Linked DNA regions of Homo sapiens: region 2 is linked to region 1. Evidence: fine-mapped expression QTL. Tissue or cell type: tibial nerve. Region 1 holds a variant in brackets; the other region holds the start of a gene. All regions are shown on one strand. Distances are between the middles of the regions.

Region 1 (5,139 bases):
ACCCATCCCTGGCTCTGATAAGTGTCTTAGTGGGACAGGAGCCAAGAGCTATCCTGGGCTCCTGAGGGTATGAAGAACCTGGGCTCTATGCTCACTTGAAAGTGACATAGGTTCCTGTCTGTTGGTGCACTGGCCAGTATGTGCTGAGCTTCCACTTTTCCTGGAAAGAAAGGAAAAGGAAGAGGGGTTGGTGAAGGGGTGGGATAGGATGGCACGGAGAGGAGAGGGAGCTCACTTGGCCTCTCAGGCTCAGCCACGCCTGGCCCATCCTGGGCCCCCTCCTGGCCCCAGGAACCCAAAGCGGGATGCACCATTCACTGGGCCCAGGCAATCAGATCCACTGATTCTACTTGGCGGTCAACGCCCCTGACTGCTGCTGGGTATGGAGGCCAGGAGCTTACCTCATTGGTGAGGACACAGATCCCTGGGGCCTCTGCCTCCAGGGAAGGGAAGGCTGCCTGGAGCAGAAGAGGCAGTACCTCTGGAGGAACACCAGGCCTTGGGGGAATGTGGTGGGTACAAAGGCAGTTGATTGGCCACAGAAGGCCCAATCGGGGCCCAGGTTCTTCGAGAGGGAGAGTCTATGCTGGAATGTCTAAGAAAAGGCTAAATGCCTACTTGGTAGAAATTATCTGCTTTTGTCGGGTACGGGGTGGAAAGATTGGGTTAGATTTTGGTAAGGTCGAACAGGAAGGCACAAGTGTACACCACAACCTGAACACAGCAATTAATCATGACAGTGGCAGCCAAACACACCAGTACTAAGCTCAACACTAGACATTTATGTCTCATTTAACCTGTACAGCTCTGGGAGGCATGCGGTACTGCCAGGTTTCACAGGGAAGACTCCTGAGACTCATAGTAAGCTATTTCCCGATTGATCTTGACTCTTCTGGACCCTGAAGTATGGCTGAAGGCAGAGAGTCAAAAGTCACCCAGCTCTCCCTATCCACAATCTGCAGAGAGGCTTCTAAATGCCTGGAGGAGTATATGGTCAGCATAAATATTCCGGGTATAAAGCAGTGTTTCTCAACAGGGGATGATTTTGCCTGTCTCCTCCCCCCACCCAGGGGACATTCGGCAGTGTCTGGAGGCATTTTTGGCTGTCACAACGTGGGGGTGCTGCTGGCACAGGATGGATAGTCTGGCCCAGGTGTCCCTAGAGCCAAGGTGTCTGGGGGAGAAGCCCTGCTGCTCCCCATGAGAGGGGCTGGCGCGCAAAGAGAAAATCAGAGGCTGGAAGAGGTGAGCCTGGCCAAGGCCACGCGGCCAGGAAGCCGGCCACGGAAGCGGCACCTAGCCACGTGTGACTCAAATCTTCCCGCAGCCACGTCAAAAAAGTAAGAGCAAACAGGCGTGGCCCCGGCTGCGCCCAGCGGAGCGGAGACCCGGTTGGCTGGGCCCGCGCCCCCGGCCCCACTCTCGCGGCAGGACACCTCCCACGGGGCTGCTCCCACTCCAGACCGCAGGCCTAGCCCCGCGCCGCCCCACCTGCTCTGATGAGGCCCTGCGCGATGGCCCCCGCCATGCGGCCCGCGCCCACGAAGCCCACGCGCCGCGGAGACGGCTCCGCAGCTGCCATCTTGTTGCCTCGGACGCCGCTGCGCTCACCGCCCATCCACAGGCCGCGCCCCGCCCACAGATCTAGGCCCCACCCCCGCCCTCCAATAGGACTCGCCTCCCCGTCCCCACCCTCGCCGATTGGTTACTGGGACGGCACACTCCGGCCGGCTTTTTGTCCGCACTCTACAAGTTCGCAAGGCGCGGGAACCCCGCCTCTCGCTGCTTATTGGCCCGAAAGGGCTATGCCGCCCCTCACTGCCCATTGGCTGAGAGAAACTGGGGGCGGGGCCGTAAGGGGCGGGGCCGGCGGGGTACTCGCGCTCGGAGAGGCCGGAGGAGCGGGGAGGGGTCCCGGTCGCGCGTGCGAGGAGCACATGTTGGTTTTCCGGAGGGGAGGGGTAGCGAAGCGGGTTGCGGGGCTGGTCCAGAGCGTGCGGTCACTGAGGCCCCGCCGACCACAGACGGTGGAGCTGCGGGGAAGCACTAGGGGCGGAGACCCAGGTCACGGAGAGCAGGCCAGGGCCAGGGGCCTGAGACCGACGGAGGGGACAGTCGGGGAGGGGGTACTCGTCACTTTTAATGACACAAGGAAAACAAGGCTTGAAGATCTGAGTGCGGTTTTTTCATCATCCAATCTAAAGCTGCATGTTACATATGTTATTTTCTTTTGAAGCCTTTGACATTTTCTTTTTTCTTTTTTTTGAGACGGAGTCTCGCTCTGTCGCCCAGGCTGGAGTGCAGTGGCGCCATCTGGGCTCGCTGCAAGCTCCGTCTCCCGGGTTCACGCCATTCTCCTGCCTCAGCCTCCCAAGTAGCTGGGACTATAGGCGACCGCCACCACGCCCGGCTTATTTTTTTGTATTTTTAGTAGAGA[T/C]GGGGTTTCACCTTGTTAGCCAGGATGGTCTCAATCTCCTGACCTCGTGATCCACCTGCCTCGGCCTCCCAAAGTGCTGGGATTACAGGCGTGAGCCACCGTGCCGGCCCAAGCCTTTGACATTTTCTAAGCTCTTCAGTAATGAAATCCTCTCATTGATTCAACATTCACTGTGCAGCTGCAGCCTCTGGGCCCTGCTCTGGGCCTGGGCAAGATCACCCCACGGCAGCAGATGGGACAGGCTGGACCCCACCCTGCAGCCCTGCTTGGTGGCAGTGTAGACAGACTACAGTCAGCACACACGCAGGACAGCCAGTGTGTCAAGGCTCTGAAGCAAATGAGGTGGAAAGGGACAGAAAGCCACCAGGAGGCTGCTTCGGCCACTGCAGCCGAGAAACGTGGGTGGTGGACACTTTGCACCAGCACACAGCGTCAGCAGCTGTATCTCCTGCCACCTCGGATCCTCCCAGCCCCTTCCCACAGACTCCCTGGATTTTCTCCCAGGCCCCCTGGGCCAGTGATGGCTCAGGACCAAGGCTGTGGGGAGGTGAGAGGGGCCAGAGGCATCCAGTGCCATGCCATCATACATAAGGACAAAGCTCATCATAAACAAGTGGACTGAGGCGAGGTGAAGGAGGATTGCTGGCTGAGTGCCCAGGGCCACAGTGGGTAAAAGGAGGCCCAGGGGCCCAGCCCCGTTCAGCTTCTCCGTCCCATGCCGGGCTGGGCTTCTGAGCATCAGCTGGGAGCCCTCAGCTGACGTGGACACCCAGCCAGCCAAGGCTTGTGTCCAGGGCACCTCTCTGCTCTTGGCTGGGCTTCTTCCCACTGTTCACCTGGTGGATCCAAGCAGCCACATAGGCGCCACCCTCTCCAGGAGGCCTTTCCTGAACCCCCACATGGGCAGAGCCTTTATCCACAAAGGGCTGGGGCCAGGGGATACACTGTGAACGAGGCCAACCCGTCTCCTGGAGCTCGAGGTCCTGGGGTGTCAGCGGGAGGGTTAGGGGTTGAGGCGGGGCTCCCAGAGGTTTCCAGACAAACAATCCCAGCAGGGCAGGGTGGATGCTCCGAGAGGCGCTGTGAAGGTGCCATCAGGGAAGGTGTTTTGGAGGCTGGGCCACCTCAGCTGAGGCCTAAAAGGTAGGGAGGCCTTGACCCAAGAGGGGGCCAGTCTCAGGGGAGGCCTGGAGGACACCTCGGCTTGCTGGACACAAAGGGACAGTGAGAGATGAGGTGAGCGGTTGGCTGGGTGCAGGACACACCGGTCTGGACTCAGTGCCGGGACAGGGAGGACACATCACCGCTGCCGGAATGAACGAAGAAGTGAAGCAGCAGGTCCTACCTGCAGCCAAAAGGCATCATGTGCGTGAAGACGGCACAGGGCGCCCAGGAGAGGGACCCTGAGGACGTGGGCCCAGAGTTGGGCCAGGAGCCAGGGAGGGCATCTGGGTCCTGGATGCAGTGGACCAGAGGGTTCTGGCATAGGGGCTCCCTCTGTGAGAGGCACTGAGAAAGGGGGCGACGGGCAAGCCGGGGCCTGGAGCCCAGTGCTCCTGGTCCATACCCCAGCGCCACCCTGCCTGGCTGAGGCACTGGCCCGGGAACCATTCTGGACTTTGCTGTCTCCCCTCTGAGAATGGACGGGGGCGGCGAGCAATGACACCCCACCTCTGGTGGCTGGAGCTGACCTGTCCAGCAGGCACCTGTCCCTCTCCATGGGATAAGGCCAGGTGGGGGACCCACGCCCAAGCCTGAGAGCCACAGAGAGGAGGGGCCAGGCCAGGGGAAGCCCGAGCCACCCAATCATCAGCCTCCCCTCATATCCATCCATGGGCTCAGCTCGGCTGGCTCACTAGACGTTTCTGGCCCACTAGACCAGCTTCCCCAGAGCCCTCAGGCTGAGGCAGGGAGGTCCGGGTGAGCTCAAGTTACTCAGGCCTGCAGGTGGCCACATGTGGAGGGGCTGGGACTGGCCCTGCCCTGCACATCCTTGTCCAGCTGACAGTCCACACCAGTCTCACTGCTGCCTGCCTGCTGCCTGCCCACGTGTGCCTTCCCATCTCCAGCCTCTGCGGCCTTTCCACCCCAGGGAGTCACCAGCTCTTGGGGGCTGAACAGTAAGCCAGGGGGATAGTGGGTCCTGGGACTGGCCAGGCTAGGGGGCAGTCCCTGGGTGTGGGGGACGGCTCAGCACAGAGCTGCCAAGGCCAGGCCTGTGAAAATGCACTTTATTGGCTCCCAGGGAGTGGGATGCAGGATCAGAGTGGACACGCGCAGGGGGCTGGTGTGGGGAGCAAAGCGCCGGGCCTGCCCGGGACCCTGGTTTCCCTGAGGACCAACGTGAATGGGGGCCCCACTGGAAAGATGCTTGGGGCTGCAGAGCGGATGGAATGCAGGCCCAGGTTGCTGGGTGGTGCCCTCAGCTCCTGGCAGGGTTGACGGGTGGTGGCCGCTGGGCTCTGCCAGCCGATGGTCCGCTGGCACCTGATCCTGTCTTCCAGCTTCACTTCCGGGCCTGCTCGTAGTTGTCAGTGAACCAAGCACAGGTCTCCTTCACCGCTGCAGAGGCAGGCAGGTGAGGGCCATGGACAGGGAGGGTCGGGGCCGCATGGGAGGAAGTGGGGGGAGGAGGCCCAGGGACAGGGAAGTCACCCCTCAGAGCTTTGGTGTCCCACCTCCAGGGCAGTACAGGCTCTGAG
Region 2 (5,139 bases), 830 kb before region 1:
GGCTCCAACTCGGGCCTGGCAGACTTCCTAGCACAGGGGCCGGTGCCAAAGGCCCTCCTCCCACAGCCCTGATCCCGTACCGGTCCTGGCAGCTCCTGGCCTCAGTAGGAAGCGTGACTAGGCCTGGAGGAGCCTTTCCTCCTAAGAGTCTCCCCACCACCCCACCTGCGGGCATTCCTTGTCTTCCCCCTGCCCCAGCACACCAGGGGCAGACTGAGGCAGGGGCCTCTCCTAGGGCTTCCCAGAAGGTGGGCTTGGCCACAGCTCCCATCTGCTCAGTGCTCCCTGCCTGACTGGGCCCCTCCCCATAAATAGCCCTGGACAGGCGAGGGGCTGATCAGCCCATCAAAGCCGGACACTTTTGGGATCCCACACAGCATCGAAAGGTCAAGGCCTCGAAGTGAGGTCGTGTGGTGGTTGGGGGAGGTCGGGTGTCTTCTTGCCCACAGTCCTGACCCTGGGCATGGCTGAGGAGGTCGCAGGGAGTGTGGAGGGTGAGGCAGGGTGAGCTGGGTGCGAGGGTGTAGCAGTGTGTCTCGAGAGCTTTGTTCTTGAGTGGGTCTGCCTCGGGGGCTTTAGAGGAGACCCCAGAGGGTGGCCAGGAGGATGGGGGCCAGGGCCAGGGTGGCCGGGGTGGCAAGGCCGGTGCCGTTGCAGAGGTCGTACTGGCAGCAGGAGGTGGTGGACGCGTGCTTGGAGTAGCCATCATACACAGTCTCGAAGCAGCGGGGCACGCAGGACTTACTGACCTTCATCCTGGTGGGGGTGTAGTCTGCAGAGGGGCGGGGCGGTGAGCCAGCTCCGCTAAGAGGGGCAGGAGACCCAGCTGGCCCCACCCCAGCATCCACAGCCATCAGGGCAGGGCCCCTCAGCCTGGAGCTCCCAGACAGGATCCGGGAACAGGAGAGCCTCCTTCCTCAGGACCCCCGCATGCTCAGGGGCAGGGCAGAACCTCCCCTTCGTGCTCCCCAGGCAGGGCCACGCAGGGCCCCCAGACTCACAGGTGCGCGTGGTCATGCAGTAGGCAACCATAGCCGGGCAGCGCATGGGGTTGAAGCAGTTGTCTCCGTTGTAGGCACACACGTGGCAGTCCAAGGCCTGGGCTGGGGTTGGCAGATGGGCGGGAAGGGAACGGGGGTCACAGAACATGAGAGGCCCCTCCTCCAGCCCATCAGGCCCCCAGCCCGTCACCTTCCCCGGGGCAGGGGGCTAGAAGGAGGGGTTGTCGCTGGGAATTCTAGCCTCCTTCCCTACTGTCAGCCCATCTGCCCTCAAAGTGGGTCTGCCCATCCCTCTGTCCTTTGTCCATCTTACCCAGAGGTAAGCCCATGAGGACCACCAGGATCAGGGTGAGCAGGGGCGTCATGGCTGCAGGCAGGAGGGCAGCGTGGGAGTGGGGAGGTCAACAGCAGCTAGCCCTGGATCCAACTCAGGGGTGGCGCACAGAGGATCCAACTCAGGGTGGTGCGCAGAGGACGTGGGGCCGGCCCTGCCTCCCGGAGCTCCTGGTCTACTGGGAGTGCTGCAACCCTGCACAGCAGGTGGCAAAGACAGGTGGTCAGTACTGGGCCTGAAGGACCCATGGGGGCCTGGGCAGGGATGATGGTGGGCAGAGGGGCCACCTAACTCAGTGGGTGTCAGGGAAGGTTTCCTGGAGGAGGAGACACTTGGGATGGGACAAGAAGGGAGAAGAGATCAGGACATTTCAATCAGAGACCAGCACCTGCAAAAGCTCAAAACAGCCTGTAGCGCTGGATGGAGGAGAGATGGGGGGAGGATGAGGGGCAGTGCTAGAGAAGGAGTAGGGATGGGCAGAGGGGCCTTAAATACCAGGCCTAAACAAGGATTTTACCCAGGGGATGGTTGGTGCAGAGGTCCCATGGGAGGTGGTCTGCAGCCCCATCCCAAGCAGGGCCCTGGGGGCCGGATGGCTGGCCATGGCAGGACTGGGCCCAAAAGCTGGGTCTCTTCTCGCTGTTCCCCTCCTCTCTGCTCCTGGGGTGTCCCTACTTGGGGTTCCTTCTTCCAGAAGACCTCCAGAGCCCTGGTTAGGGTTGTCTGAGTCCTCGGCCACTGCAGAAGCTCCCCAGCAGGGATGAGCTGTGCCCAGCTTGGGGGGAATGCATTTTGAGCCCCTCCCAGGAGGGCACTTGGGCCAGACAAGAAGAAGCATTTCCCCGGCTGGGTCTGGTGTTTGGAACGGGAATGCCCTCTCTGGAAAGAGGTTTACAGTGGGGAGGTGGGGGTTGGATTACGGCTCTCCTACCCCTGCCGGGATACTCGGCCCTCGGTCTCCGTCCTGGAGGACTAAATTAAACTTACGCCTTCCCGAGAACAACAAATCCGTCTCTCACGACACATTTGCCCAGGCCAACCCCAGGATGCCAAAGGCCAGAGTCAGGCCTGCGGCTTCGAGCTTCCCAACCCCCTCACGGAGAGCCCCGCCCCAAACACTGCGGTCCCAGGTCGAGGGGAGGGCTCTCGGCGCGAGCGGGACTATCAGGGTGACCTCACCTGTGACCTTCACCACCGTGAGGTACCGCCGCGCCTGGGAGTCACCCGCGGCCGCTCGCCGGTAGGTGCCTGCCTGAGTCTAATCGTAGGCGTGTCTGTGTGTCCCGCAGCACCCGTGCCGCATCGCCTGATGCTCACCGCAGGCCCAGCCCAGTCCCGCCCCCGGAACAGCCCGCCCAGCGCGAGCTCACCGCAGGCCCCGCCCCAGGCCTGCCCCGGCCCCACCTCCTGAGCAACCCCCCGAGCCGAGCTCACCGCAGGCCCCGCCCCGGACCCGCCTCCTGGGCTACTCACCAAGCCGCGCTCACTGCAGGCCCCGCCCCTGCCCCGCCTCCTGGGCACCCGCCGAGCCGAGTTCACCGCAGGCCCCGCCCCGGACCCGCCTCCTGGGCACCCGCCGAGCCGAGTTCACCGCAGGCCCCGCCCCGGACCCGCCTCCTGGGCACCCGCCGAGCCGAGTTCACCGCAGGCCCCGCCCCGGACCCGCCTCCTGGGCACCCGCCGAGCCGAGTTCACCGCAGGCCTCGGCCCGGACCCGTCCCCGGACCGCCGGCTCGCCGGGCAAGCGCTGGGACCCCGAGGCCAGTCCAGGCATCTGGATCTCCGACACAGAGGCAGCCACGCAGTGATTCCCTGGCGACCCTCAGACTCACGTGTTCAGCCCGGACACTCCGCAGGCTATCTTCACCGCGTCCCGCGGCAGCCCAGCCTTCCCCGCAGCCGCCTCCGCCCACTCGCCCGCGCCGCGTCGTTTGTCGGCCGGCACCAGCCTTGCGGCCCCAGCTCCGCCCTCCTGCAGCCCAGGCCCAGCAGCTCCGGAACTGGCGCCCTTTGGCGCACCCGCCTCGCTGCCCATGGCCTCCGCCTGCCTCCCCTGCGCTCAGCTCCCGCTTCTGGTCCCTGTAGCAAAGCTGGAAGGCAGGCCTGCAAGGCAGCCCCTTGCTCCGTGGTCCCTCTCACCATCATAATGTTCATATTAAATAATTATCTTTACATAACTTTGAATACTTATGTTATTGGTTCTGTTTTTGGCAAAATGTAATAAAATTTCATGGGTCCGAAAGTTTTCATTTTTTCCAATGTGAGAAAGAAAAATAAAACCTTTTCTTCTACCCTAAAGCTCATTTTTTTCTTTAAAACATTTTTGCGGGCCTGAGGTACAGAATACACCATGCCTGCTGGGCAAGCGGGCTCCGGTTCCAGGAAATCCTTCGGTCCCCAGCAAACTAGGCCAGTTAGTTGTTCTGTTTGCCGAGAGGTAATGCGCACCCTCCTGTGCCAGGTCCTAGTTGGGGAGAAGGCAAAGAATAAAACCAGCAGACGTTCCAGAATATTCCCACCCCATGGAGCTCACACTCTGGTGGGATAAGGGGCGTGGAAGGAACGCATAGGTCAGAACCAGAGTATGTCGCGGTCTTCAGCCTCAGACCACGATGAATTAATACGGATGAAACTTCCCTTGCCCGCCCGCCAGCGCTCGCCTCCTGCTGTGTGGCGTGGTTCCTAACCGGTCTGTGACCCAGGGGTTGGGGACCTTTATGTTAAAGGAAGTTCTTCAGGCAGAAATACGGATCTACACAAAGGAATAAATGACACCAGAAATAGGAAATAGAAGGTAATTTTTTTCTTATTTTTGAATCAAGTTAAAAGATAGTTGATTACCTAAAGCAAAAATAATAACAATGTATTAAGGAATTTATAGCAAATGTAGAAGTAAATTGTATGATAATAGTAGTGCAGGCTGGGCACCGCGGCTCACGCCTGTAATCCCAGCACTTTGGGAGGCTGAGGCGAGTGGATCGCTTGAGCCCAGGAGTTCAAGACCAGGCTTGGCTGGGCAACGTAGAGAGACCTCATCTCTAAAAAAAAAAAAATACCAAAAAATTAGCTGGGTGTGGTGGTGCACACCTGAGGTTGCACCCAGGAGGCTGAGGTGGGAGAATCACTTGAACCCAGGAGGTGGAGGTTGCAGTGAGCTGTGATCACGCTACTGCACTGAAGCCTGGGTGATAGAGCAAGACGCTGTGTCAAATAAATTTAAAAAAAAATAGTAATACAAATAGACCAGGAGAGGGACAATGGAAGTTCACTGTTGTAGATTTATTCTACTCTATGTGAAGTGGCCTACTATTTCTTGGAGGTAGACTAGTAAGTCAAAGGTGTATGCTAAGACGCTAAAGTGTCACTAAAAAAAGACAAAGAAAAAAGCAAAAGTCAAAGCACTGTAGTTAATAAATCAACAAAAGTGATGATACAGAATTATTTATTTATAAAAGCACATGTTACAGAGACTGCAGAAGAGGAGAAAGGAAAAAACAATGAGACAAATAGAAAACAAATAGCAAGATGACATATATTTAAACCCAGCCACAGCAATAATGACACTATGTCATCTAAACACTTCAATCAGGCTGAGCACGGTGGCTCACACCTGTAATCCTAACCTGTAATCCCAACACTTTGAAAGGCTGAGGAAGGTGGATCACTTGAAGTCAGGAGTTCCAGACCAGCCTGGCCAACATGGTGAAACTCCCTCTCTACTAAAAAATACAAAAATTAGCTGGGCATGGCGGTGGGTGCCTGTAATCCCAGCTACTTGGGAGGCTGAGGCAGGAGAATTGCTTG

What was found. PIP is the estimated chance that this variant, and not a neighbour inherited with it, causes the effect.
Region 2: it holds the start of LYNX1, and the variant in region 1 is fine-mapped to the expression of LYNX1 in tibial nerve (GTEx, PIP above 0.99).

What each region holds. Positions count from the first base shown.
Region 1 is chr8:143,607,967-143,613,105 of GRCh38, forward strand. PYCR3 (pyrroline-5-carboxylate reductase 3) reads right to left here and starts at 1,609. Exons shown (of 6, transcript NM_023078.6): 1 at 1,492-1,609; 2 at 96-160. The coding sequence starts at 1,582. It overlaps GFUS (GDP-L-fucose synthase), which reads right to left. Exons shown (of 11, transcript NM_003313.4): 11 at 4,652-4,999. The coding sequence ends at 4,944. RefSeq lists an enhancer at 2,717-3,216. The variant T/C (reference allele first, on the strand shown) is at 2,438.
Region 2 is chr8:142,774,592-142,779,730 of GRCh38, forward strand. It overlaps LYNX1 (Ly6/neurotoxin 1), which reads right to left and starts at 2,611. Exons shown (of 4, transcript NM_177477.4): 1 at 2,515-2,611; 2 at 1,315-1,530; 3 at 1,002-1,103; 4 at 1-772. The coding sequence starts at 1,366. The coding sequence ends at 576. It overlaps LYNX1-SLURP2 (LYNX1-SLURP2 readthrough), which reads right to left and starts at 3,281. Exons shown (of 5, transcript NM_023946.5): 1 at 3,168-3,281; 2 at 1,315-1,530; 3 at 1,002-1,103. The coding sequence starts at 1,366.